Homo sapiens: one gene and its partners. The protein of the gene in region 3 interacts with the protein of the main gene of each other region in a pairwise test. Each region holds a gene or a part of one and is shown on either strand. Other genes may lie near its edges.

What was found.
Region 1: the proteins of SS18L1 (region 3) and BAG4 interact in binary tests that used the Homo sapiens proteins (3 or more experiments, as listed by UniProt).
Region 2: the proteins of SS18L1 (region 3) and RFX6 interact in binary tests that used the Homo sapiens proteins (3 or more experiments, as listed by UniProt).

What each region holds. Positions count from the first base shown.
Region 1 is NC_000008.11:38,174,582-38,178,329, reverse strand, and holds the start of BAG4 (BAG family molecular chaperone regulator 4), read right to left. Parts: upstream 1,476-3,748; 5' UTR 1,461-1,475; coding exon 1,191-1,460; intron 1-1,190. Other genes in the region: U6 snRNA-associated Sm-like protein LSm1, read left to right, coding at 2,010-2,055. UniProt on the Homo sapiens protein: Inhibits the chaperone activity of HSP70/HSC70 by promoting substrate release. Prevents constitutive TNFRSF1A signaling. Negative regulator of PRKN translocation to damaged mitochondria.
Region 2 is NC_000006.12:116,875,429-116,879,176, reverse strand, and holds the start of RFX6 (DNA-binding protein RFX6), read right to left. Parts: upstream 1,936-3,748; 5' UTR 1,902-1,935; coding exon 1,679-1,901; intron 1,382-1,678; coding exon 1,225-1,381; intron 1,215-1,224; exon of another isoform or gene 967-1,214; coding exon of another isoform or gene 965-966; intron 1-964. UniProt on the Homo sapiens protein: Transcription factor required to direct islet cell differentiation during endocrine pancreas development. Specifically required for the differentiation of 4 of the 5 islet cell types and for the production of insulin.
Region 3 is NC_000020.11:62,167,671-62,171,418, reverse strand, and holds part of SS18L1 (calcium-responsive transactivator), read right to left. Parts: intron 1-3,748. UniProt on the Homo sapiens protein: Transcriptional activator which is required for calcium-dependent dendritic growth and branching in cortical neurons. Recruits CREB-binding protein (CREBBP) to nuclear bodies.

The DNA of each region.
Region 1 (3,748 bases), on a different chromosome or scaffold from region 3:
TACAAAAATTAGCCGGGTGTGATGGCCGGCGCCTGTAATCCTAGCTACTCGAGAGGCTGAGGCAGGAGAATCGCTTAAACCGGGAGGCGGAGGTTGCAGTGAGCCGAGATGGCACCACTGCACTCCAGCCTGGGCAACAGAGCGAGACTCCAACTCAAAAAAAAAAAAAACAAAAAAAACGACATTTCTACTTTTTGGCGATTATGAATAATGATGCTATGAACATGGGCGGACAAGCTTTATGTGAACATACGTTATCAGTTTTCTTGGGTATATAGCCAGGAGTGGGCTTGCTGGGTCATAGACTAATTCTAATGCTTAATGTTTTGAGGAACTACCAAACTATTTTCCACCATTTTACATCCCCACCAGCAATGTACGAGAATTTCACTATTACATTTTCAACAAATGAGGATAATTCTTGAACGAACAGAGAGGTATGCTGCCACCGCAGAACGACAACCCACTACCCAGAAGACTGTATTAACAAAGCAGAAGTATATGTCCGGCAGGAAAACGGAGAATAAAATGTTGCAGGTCCAAGTGTATTAGGCAAGTGAGTTAACCTCGCAGAGCCCCGGTTCCTTATTCGAAAACAAAAAAAAGGGCCGCTGTAATGCCATTTTACCTTGCAGTCGCCGTGAAAATTAAATCAGTCAATCCGCGTAAAGGTACTTTACAACACTGATTATTCATGATTCGATCTCAGGCAAGGCATTAGGGGCAAACAGCTAAATGCCCAGATCCCTCCTCCTCGCAAAGGTTCCTTCCCCTCGGGAGGGTCCCTGAGCGGCATCGGGGGCTGCAGCCACTTCCCTTCCCCGGGAGAGCCGGCCTGCCAGCCACGCAGGATAAATTGCTAGAGCTGGAGCAGTAGATCCGTGCCACCCCTACCCAGCACCGCTCCCAGGAGAGAGATCTGCAGCCTGCTGCTAAGCTTAGTAAGTCCGCGCAGGATCTTTCTTTTTTAAATGGTAATAAACATATTTTTTGGGGTCGAAGCAGAAAAGGAGGGGCAAAGGGAACACAAGCATGTCCCCCCAACCTCTGATCTTAGTCTCGGTCTCTCCAACACCCCCCGCAACACACCCTCCTCCACATAAGGAAAACAAGTATGAAACCCGATCCTTTACGAACCCCAGCCCCAAGGGCCCTCACCTCCCCGCAAGGACAGAGGGTGCAAAGCTTACCTGGTGGCTTCCTCCGGCTCGACCAGGCTCTGGCCAGGCGCCTCCCGAGGGATAGTAGCCATCGCCTCCTCCGCCTTCTCCCAGCCAGGTGGTCTCCGCCGGGCCGCCCCCGCGCACCCGCCAGGAAATGGGAGGCTGGGGAGGTTCAGGGCGAAGAGGATATAAGGGTGGAGGTGGGTGTACCGGCACATCTCCACCCCCAGGCCCGTAGTAGCGGCCGTAGGACGGACCGTCACTGGGGCCGTAGCCCGAGCGCCTCAGGGCCGACATGGGATCCGCTGCCCTGAAGCGCTTCCCGCCCCGCTCCCCACGGCCGACCCATCGCGCAGGCGCCCGCGGGCGATTGCGAATGGAGAGCAGCGAAGGGGGTCGGACGACGCCAGCCAATCCCAGGCCCGGGCCCGCCCCTTCTGCTGCCGAACCCCGAAAGCTGAGGGACGGAGGTCAGTGACTCTGGGGTCTCGGGAACCCGGAGACGAAGGAAGACACCGTGTTCCTTAAGAGGGAGTATACGTTTCCTCGCCATTTATCCAATGGAGTTTCCTCTTACCTACTTAACAGGAACAGGGAAAGGGTGTCCCCCAACGGTACGGCTGCCCCGCCTCTTCCTGGGGGCCCACACGTGTTACAGGAAGTGGGTAAGGGTAATATGGAGGAGCTTCCGGCAGCCCCCGGCGGCTGAAAGCCGGGGCAGAAGTGCTGGTCTCGGTCGGGATTCCGGGCTTGGTCCCACCGAGGCGGCGACTGCGGTAGGAGGGAAGAGGTTTTGGACGCGCTGGCCTCCCGCCGCTGTGCATTGCAGCATTATTTCAGTTCAAAATGAACTATATGCCTGGCACCGCCAGCCTCATCGAGGACATTGACAGTGAGTAGTTTATCTCCTCCCGGTGGAGCCCGGGGTTAGACCCTTCCTCCCGGGCGGGCGCCTCTTCCGAAGAAGCTTGTAGAATGAGTCCCGGGCGGGGCCGGTGTGTTCTGAGCTCAATCCGGGCGTTCCGCGTCGATGTCCTCCACAGCTGCGGTACACACCGCTTGCCCACCCAGTAGCCTGCTGCTACTTCTGCCCCTCGCAGCCTCCGCCAGCCCTCTAGCTGGTGAGCCCCAAGCGATGGAACTCATTCTTGCTTCCGTGGATCGCGGCAGCAGAGGCCCGAACACGAAAGAAGCCCGGGGAGGGGGGGGGCTTCTCCCCCGTCCACTCCTGCCTGCAGTATTTCGAAGTATCAGCGTGTTACCGGTGGATGGATCGGAATACCTAGAGAGAGGATTCATTAAAAAGCGAAAATATTAAGACAGCGGCAGTTGGACTTAATTGGCAGTAAATGTAGGCGCTCTACGGTGTGGCCATTTGCTAGCTTATTTTACTGTGAGGGTCATTAGCACCTTCAGGTTATTGTAGTAGAGACCACTGTTAGACATGGTATTGACTTTTCTGGAAAGACCAAATCACTTGCAACCTTTTTTTTTTTTTTAAGACAATTTACTTTTGCTTTTACTAAGAAGACCTCCCTTATTCCTGGTTTTTGTCCGGAAGAGGAGCTCAGTCCTATACAAAAGCGAAAAGAACCGTCTGCAGTTGTTCTGGCTTTCCTTTTTTCTAAATTCCGTCTGTGCATTATTCCTCAAGCAACATTTTTTATTGTTTTAATCATGTGATCTTTCTCATTAACTTGTTTCAAGATGATTTACACATAGTTTTAAATAAGTTGCAATCGTCTCAGTTACTCTGTGAATACGCAATTTAGAATCTATGGTTAAAATTTCATTTTACGGGCCTGGCGCGGTGGCTCACGCCTGTAATCCCAGCACTTTGGGGGGCCGAGGCGGGCAGATCGCCTGAGGTCGGGAGTTCAAGACCAGCCTAGCCAACATGGTGAAACCCCGTTCCTACAATTAGCTGGGCACTATGGCGGTGCCTGTAATCCCAGCTACTCGGGAGGCTGAGGCGGGAGAATCGCTTGAACCCGGGAGGAGAAGGTTGCAGTGAGCCGAGATCGCACCATTGCACTCCAGCCTGAGCGACAGAGCAAGACTCCGTCTCAAAAAAAAAAAAAAAATCATTTTATGGTTGACAGATCTTTTTTCTTTTCTTTTCTTTTTTTTTTTTTTTTTTTGAGACAGAGTCTTGCTCTGTCGCCCAGGCTGTAGTGTGCAGTGGCGCGATCTCGACTCACTGGAACCTCCACCTCCCGGGTTTAAACAATTCTTGTGCCTCAGCCTCCCAAGTAACTGGGATTACAGGCGCCTGCCAGCACGCCCAGCTAATTTTTGCATTTTTTGGTAGAGACGAGGTTTCGCCATGCTGGGCAGTCTGGTCTCCAACTCCTGACCTCAGGTGATCCACCCACCTCGGCCTCCCAGAGTACTGGGATTACAGGCGTGAGCCACCGCCTCCGGCCGACAGATCATTTTTTTAAACACAAATTACTTATTGTGCTATGTAAGGGAAATGTAGTGTAATTGGACTAAATATATATTAACATCTATATGAACCTGTTACGTGTAACAGGATGTTTTAGTTGCTCGAGGATGCTCTTTTGCCCTCATCTCTCCTTATA
Region 2 (3,748 bases), on a different chromosome or scaffold from region 3:
TGTATACATTTATTCATAAAAGAAACATATATTTCCACACACTCAATTTAAATGGAAAAAATGGAGTAATCATTCGAAACAGCTCAATAATATATCTGAAATCAAAACACTTTTGCCCCAGTTATCCTGCTGCAAATAGTTGTATCCTAAATATCCCAGATATTTAACTCAATTACTTAACTGCTCTAGTATATTCTTAACTAGTAACCACGACATCAACTTCAATAGTTAAACTCCAACTTTAGATGAATATTTGGCTTATATTTCAAATATTTTGAAAGGGTTCAAGCATATAATCACAAAAAACTACTATATGTAAATTGTAATTTAATATTTAAATAAATAATAAAAATAAAATTTACTAGTTCTTTATCTTGTATTTTTCTAAGGCTCCTTAGATCATACTTTACACAAAATTAGGTTATGTAACTAATCAGTAAATATATAGTCCTTTTTATTAGTTTGTTTTTTACTTGGAATTTGTGAGGAAATTTATGCTCCTATTTCTTCCCACTACGTAGGAAAGTTTAATATAATGCTTTTACTTTAGAGCCGTCTTTCTTTTAGATAGATATTACAAAATGTTCACTCTATGTGGAAATCCTACTGATAAATTCTTGGTTTTAAAAGATTTTCCACAAAATCCAATTTGTAATATTTTATTATTATAAATCATATATGATAGATGGTATAAAAATAGTTGAACTTCTATTTAAGTTAGTATAGATATCTTAACCGATTTTTTCTATGTCTTCTACCTCAAACACAGTTCATCTTATGGAGTATACACTATTTTTAATTTGCCCTCTTTTGAATAAAGGCAGTGTTAAGATCCTTCCTCATTTTAAGTTGTTTTTAAGAATCATATTTTATAATCTCAAAAACTATCAAACAACAAATATGTAAGGACTGAACTGATTGCATATTAAGCCAGTAAGTCATAAAAACGTTCATTAATGCTTACATTTGAAGAAAATATGGTTTTAGTCAATAAGGAACAACGTAATGTGGTTTTCATTTGTATTGCAAATCCTTCACCAGTACTTGTATAAGTCTCTATACTAAAAATTCAGTGAAAAAAATTCTGGGTTAAATTCTAATTGGTTTTTTAAACTTTCCCAAAAAGTTTGAGGAAGAAGTAAATTGTGAAAATCAAAGATCCTGAAGACGCTGGCTGTTAAAACGTCAACAGGTGCTTCAGTGTACCCTGCGGGCGAGTCTCACCACTGCAGCGTGAGCTGTGTCTGCTTCTTTTTATCCTTCACAATCTGCGTGATGGTTTTCTTCTGAGACAGGTATTGATCCGCTGCTTTGGTTTTGCTGTCGTGGTTGTCGGCGTCCTCTTCTTCAGAGGAAAAGTTACCATTGTTTAAGTGCATTTCTGATTGCCAGTTGAAGGGATGATAAAGAAAAATAGAATATAAAATCAACTAAGTCGCCTTTAAGTGTACCTTAACTTCAAAGGAGTAGCCTACTGGGGTGGGGGCGGAGGGGAGGAAAGGGGGGCTATGCAAAATGTCAGGTCTCTACTTGACATTTTACTGAGGAAATACAAAGATTTGGACAGAACATTCTATATCTGCCTTATGTTTGTTCGGGATGCATTATTATTATTGGGTGCCCTTCTTAGAATACGTCCCCGTCCCCTTCCCAGCTCCGGATGCGGCAGAGCACTCACCTGATTTCACTGCCCCCGGCAGCTCCGGGTCTTCGCCTTTCTCCCCGCCGCCCTGCTCGCCCCCGGGCTGCCCTTCGGCCGCCAGGTACACTGTTTCTTCCGGATAGACTAGCAAGCCCTTGCCCAGGAGCTGCACACAGCAGTCTTCCTGGATCCCCGGGGACAGTTGGGGCGCAGGCTGCGCCTGCAGGAAGGTGTCTTCCAGCTCCGGGACCTTGGCCATCCTCCTGGCCGCCGGACACCTCCGCGCGCGCCGCTCGGCCGGTTCCCCAGCGGAGCCCCAGCCCGGGGCGGGGCGGGGCGGGGCTGGGACCCGGGGCCGCAGGGGCGGGGAAGGAGGCCGCAGGCTCCGGGGTGCCCTGGCTCAGCGCAGAAAGGACGCCGCGCACAGGTACAGCCCAGGCCGCCCGGGAGCCGCGGTGGGCCGCGGTGGGACTGCGTTTCTCCACCTGTCTGCGGTCCCGGCAGATGCTCCCGCGAAACTCACTTTCTCACCTGCGCCTGTCACGCCCTGGGCGCCCACAGCTTCCCCCTCCTTCCCGTTCTCTCAACCTGCGCTGGCCGGAGGACCGTTTTCACACTCAGAGCTCCCAGAAAGATCCCGGGAAGGCTCACTGTCTTCTGCAGGGAAAGTGCAGCTGTAACTGGCCCCATCCCTACTTTCAGGTACACTATTGGGGCACCTGGCCGCGCGGCGTGGACTCTGCACGCCTGGGACAGGGAAAAAGTACACCGGAGTACCGCTCAGTCTTTGCACAGCAGGGACCGGGCTTTTTATTCTGGGAACCTTCCGAGGGATTGGCGAGGGCTCTTCTCAGCATTTGAGGGAAGATCCCATCTCGTCACACACTGCTTTGCTCGAGGGTGCACAGTGGCCCGCACTCCTGGGTCTCCCAGCCCTGGAGGATCTGGCCTCAACCCCGAGAAAAGATTCTTTCTCTCCCATTTACCATTATTTTGTAATTTAAACGCGTCCCTGACGATTACTCATCTCATACCTAGCAGTACGGCAACGGACGTTTGCTTAAGTGAAAAATGAAATTGCGACCATCTTCCAACCCAAAATGGCAATCTCATGGGGGCAAACTATAATCTGTGCTCTCTTTAGACGGGAGCGGTCAGTGGAGACTTGGGATTGGTGTTACCTGACTGCCAGATCATCTTCCTTTCCTTCCACCTTCTGTTCTTTTGACAAATACGCCCAGTGTCTTTATATGTCCAGTGCTCTCCAACAAAAGCAAGGATTCTGCTTTGGATCACATTGCCTCATCACAACCTACAGCATGTCATCTTCTCTTGCAGCATTAGAGAGAGAAATCAGCCTTCGACTTTGACAATATTAAACTACATTACATTGAAATTTAACATAGAACAAACAAAATGGGATCCAAGGTGGTGGGTGGCTGAAGGGTGAATTATGGGAAGGAGCGATACAGTCTAAGTAATACAGCAAAAGCAGCTAAAATTATGAGTGGATTTGAATCTCCCCATTTTTAGTACCACTTGTTGGGAAAGGCAGCAACTCTTTGTCAAAGGTTTTCACCTTATCTGGTACCTCCAGCAGCTAGATCCAGGATGGGGCTACCCACCCCTCCACACTCCTAAAGTGGGTATACCCCTCCAGTGCTTCAGGACAACTTTGCCAGTTTTCTCTACCCAGTCCTCCGAAAGCCTCAGAGCCTGCTCAGACCAGAGGGCTTAGCTGTATGTACAGTACTAAAGTTTAGAATGTTGCCTCTTTACAGAGATACCCTCAGATTCATTCTGTAAAGGGAGTCCCAGTGATTAACTGTGTCTACTTATATGAAATGATAAGAAGAAAAATGTTCAGGAAAATTACTGGAATTTCTTTTTTAAAATACTAACCATATGATAATGTGTTTGTGTGTGTGTGTGTGTGTGTGTGTGTGTAAGTCATACAGACACTACGTGAAAATCTGGCAATTATCCAATTGAACAGATCATTGGAAACAAAAACCACGATCAGTTAAGGCCCTAAGTGAACTTTTTGCCTTAATTTTAAGTAAATCTGTTTGCCTAACAAAATAATGTGAAAGTTATTTGTGCTTC
Region 3 (3,748 bases):
TCTAAATCCAGGGCCGGTTCCAGCAACAGCTGGCAAACGAGCTGTCACCGTCACGGGAGAAGACTTAAGGTCACTATCCTTTCTCCTGCCCCCATGAAAGCCATCTGAGACATGGGGGAGTGGGTTTTCAAGGGTGTCAGGCTTTTGGGGGTCAGCCTGCATATTCTCATGTTTTATAGCCCACTTTATTCTTTACATAATAAAGGAGCCAGTTTGTGGCCGGGTGCGGTGGCTCACGCCTGTAATCCCAGCACTTTGGGAGGCCGAGGCGGGTGGATCACAAGGTCAGGAGATCGAGATCATCCTGGCTAACATGGTGAAACCCCGTCTCTACTAAAAATACAAAAAATTTAGCCCGGCATGGTGGCGGGAGCCTGTAGTCCCAGCTACTCGGGAGGCTGAGGCAGGAGAATGGTGTGAACCCAGGAGGAGGAGGTTGCAGTGAGCCGAGATCGCATCACTGCACTCCAGCCTGGGCGATAGAGTGAGACTCCATCTCAAAAAAACATAAACAAAAAAAAAAAATAAAGGAGCCAGTTTGTAGGAAACGGGCCAGCTTTGCCCTGGCACCCAGCAGGTATGCAACAACTGTGAGAGTGCCAGCTCAGAACACCCAGCCCCAGCACACAGGGACCAGGCCTGGCTCTCACACCCCAGTGGGTGCTCAGGCGATCTAGTGGGAACTGGCAGCAGCCGCCCTATCCCCAAAGAAAGGGGGCTGCTGAGATAACTGCAGGGAAAGGGGGCACGACATCTGTGGAAAAGGCCTTTGCCGTTTTCAGATGTGTTGCATGAAATCTGCAGGGCTCGGGGGAGCCCAGGCCGTGCTCTCAACAGGACAGCAACGGGGCGGGCAGATGTGGGGCCTTCCTCCACAACCAGCAAGTACTCCAGGGTTCTTTCTTTTCTTTTCGAGATGGAGTCTCGCTCTGTCACCCAGGCTGGAGTGCAGTGGCACAATCTCGGCTCACTGCAAGCTCTGCCTCCGGGGTTCACGCCATTCTCCTGCCTCGGCCTCCTGAGTAGCTGGGACAACAGGCGCCCGCCACCACGCCCAGCTAATTTTTTTCTATTTTTAGTAGAGACGGGGTTTCACCGTGTTAGCCACGATGGTCTCGATCTCCTGACCTCGTGATCCGCCTGCCCCGGCCTCCCAAAGTGCTGAGATTACAGGCGTGAGCCACCGTGCCCAGCTCTTTTCTTTCTCTAAGAATCCTCTGGCATTCTGCGGGGTGCCCGTGAGAAGGTGCCGGGCAGCATGGCGCATCTGTGTGTGAAACAAGAGGCCACGGCACACCCTCTGCTTCCTCAGAAGGAGCAAGATGTGGACACAATGAGCCACGAGGAACATGTGAACGACGCTCAAAGCCGTGTCACATAAAAACACAGTGATCCACACGAGGACGCAGCCAAGGCGGCCCCAGCACTGCCCAGGGAAGATGAGTCCCACAGGCCCCGGCCACACCACCCTGTCGTCCACTCCTGGGACACGCTGGTCACCACCTGGCGAGGGCCTGAGAAATGCACACGACACGCCAGCCGCGCTCGGGACTCCAGGAGGTGTGGACGGTGTGGACAGCCATAAAGTGAGGTCCTTTCAGTTTCTGTGACAGCCAATGATGTTCCTTTTTTTTTTTTGGAGATGGAGTCTCGCTTTGCCGCCCCAGGCTGGAGTGCAGTTGCGTGATCTTGGCTCACTGCTACCTCTGCCTCCTGGGTTCAAGTGATTCTCATACCTCAGCCTCACAAGCAGCTGGCTTTACAGACATGCGCCACCAAGCCCAGCTAGTTTTTGTATTTTTGGTCGAGATGGGGTTTCACCATGGTGGCCAGGCTAGTCTCAAACTACTGATCTCAAGTGATCCACCCGCCTCAGCCTCCCAGAGTGCTGAGATTACAGGCGTGAGCCACTCTGCCCGGCCCCAATGATGTTTAATTTAACTTCTGAAGCTGCCAATACATCTACATGATTCAAAGGTACATACAGACGGACTCATACCTTCAAGAGGTCCTGGGAAGGTGGCCGCTTCCACCCCTGCTCTGGACTGCCTGAGCCCTAACCCCATCTCCTACCCGGAAGCATTTGTGTTGGTTGTTTTGGTGTTTGTCCATTGGCTGACGGTGTGAGTGTGCGTGTGTGCAAGGGCACAGTCTCCTCTTGCCTGCATTTTCACAGAGGCACATCCCATGCGCCCAGCTCCATACTTGGCTTTGGCAGCTCATGGGCGGTCTCTCCTAGCAGCAATGGCGCCCAGATGCCAGGTCACGAGGGGCTGCGCTCTGTCCAGTATGCGTCACTGCAAACCTCACTGTGACGCGAACGCGGGACTCGCACCCTCTCCTGGCCCCTCCCCCACCGAGCACCACATCCCGATGCTCCTGCCCAGCACAAGTGACCCCGTGGCCCCCGCTGTCCCCTCCTGGCTTGGTCAGCCCCACTCTGGTCCCCTCCTATTACTGGTGCCCTGCGCATGAACACCCTCTCGTTTTATCAGATTCTGCAGGCTCCTGACTGATGCCGTCACCAGGAACAATTCCAGCACCAGCCTGTCCCACTCATCCTGCTGTGGGATGACTCAAAAGTTGGAAAATTCTTTTTATTTTTGAGACAGGGTCTTGCTCTGTTGCCAAGGCTGGAGCGCAGTGGTGTGATCATAGTTAAGTACAGCTTCGACCTCCCGGGCTCAAGCTATGCTCCTGCCTCAGCCTCCCAAGTAGCTGGGACAACAGGCGCATGCCACCACACCTGGCTAATGTTTTTTAGTAGAGAGGGGGTCTTACTATGTTGCCTAGGCTGGTCTCGACCTCTCAGGCTCACGTGATCCTCTGCCCTGGCCCCCACAATGCTGGGATCACAGGTGGGAGCCACTGCACCTGGCCTGATGCTGGGATCACAGGTGGGAGCCACTGCACCCGGCCTGGAAAGTTCTTTATGGTGCCTTTGACCCATTCCTCCTAACGTCCCCCCAGCCTCTCCACTGCACCATGGGCCACAGTTGTGTTTGAAGGTGGCTATGACACATCCGCCAATCTCTTCAAAGCAAAGCATCTCCAGGCCTCTCACCCCTGCAAGACTTCACAGTACCACCTGCTGTAGGGTAAAGTGTCACCATGTATGTGCACTCCTCATGTCAGAGTCTAACAAACAGATGGAATAAAATGCTTCTAAATCAAGGAGGAAACCACACCATCTGTCTTACTGGCCTTAAGAGGTTACTAAGCTTTTCAGCAAATTTCTCATCAATGATGGAAGGCAAGAGTACCTAACCCACAACAAGCTACGGAAGTACCTATCAGCCAGGCACAATGGCGCACACCTGGAGCCCCTGCACTGTAGGAGGCTGAGGTGGCACTTGAGCCCAGGAGTTCAAAACCAGCCTGGGCAACATGGCAAGACCTTATCTCTACAAAAATTAAAAAAAAAAAAAAAAAAAAAAAAGCCAGGCCTGGTGGTGCATGCCTTTAGTCCCAGCAATTCGAGAGGCTGAAGCAGGAGGATCACTTGAGCCTGGGATTTCCAGGCTGCAGTGTGCCACGATCAGGCCACTGCACTCCAGCCTAGGTGATAGGGCAAGACCCTGTCTCTTTAAAAAAAAAAAAAAAGTAGCTACATCAGACACTAAAAGGCTGAGCAGCACATCCTGCGTTTGTTTTTGGGACAAAGTGTGGCAGCCTTGGGCAGACGCATGTGGACACCTCGCCATGGACAAGGCTGAACCCTGTGCTCCAGCTGGAAGGGACAGGGCCA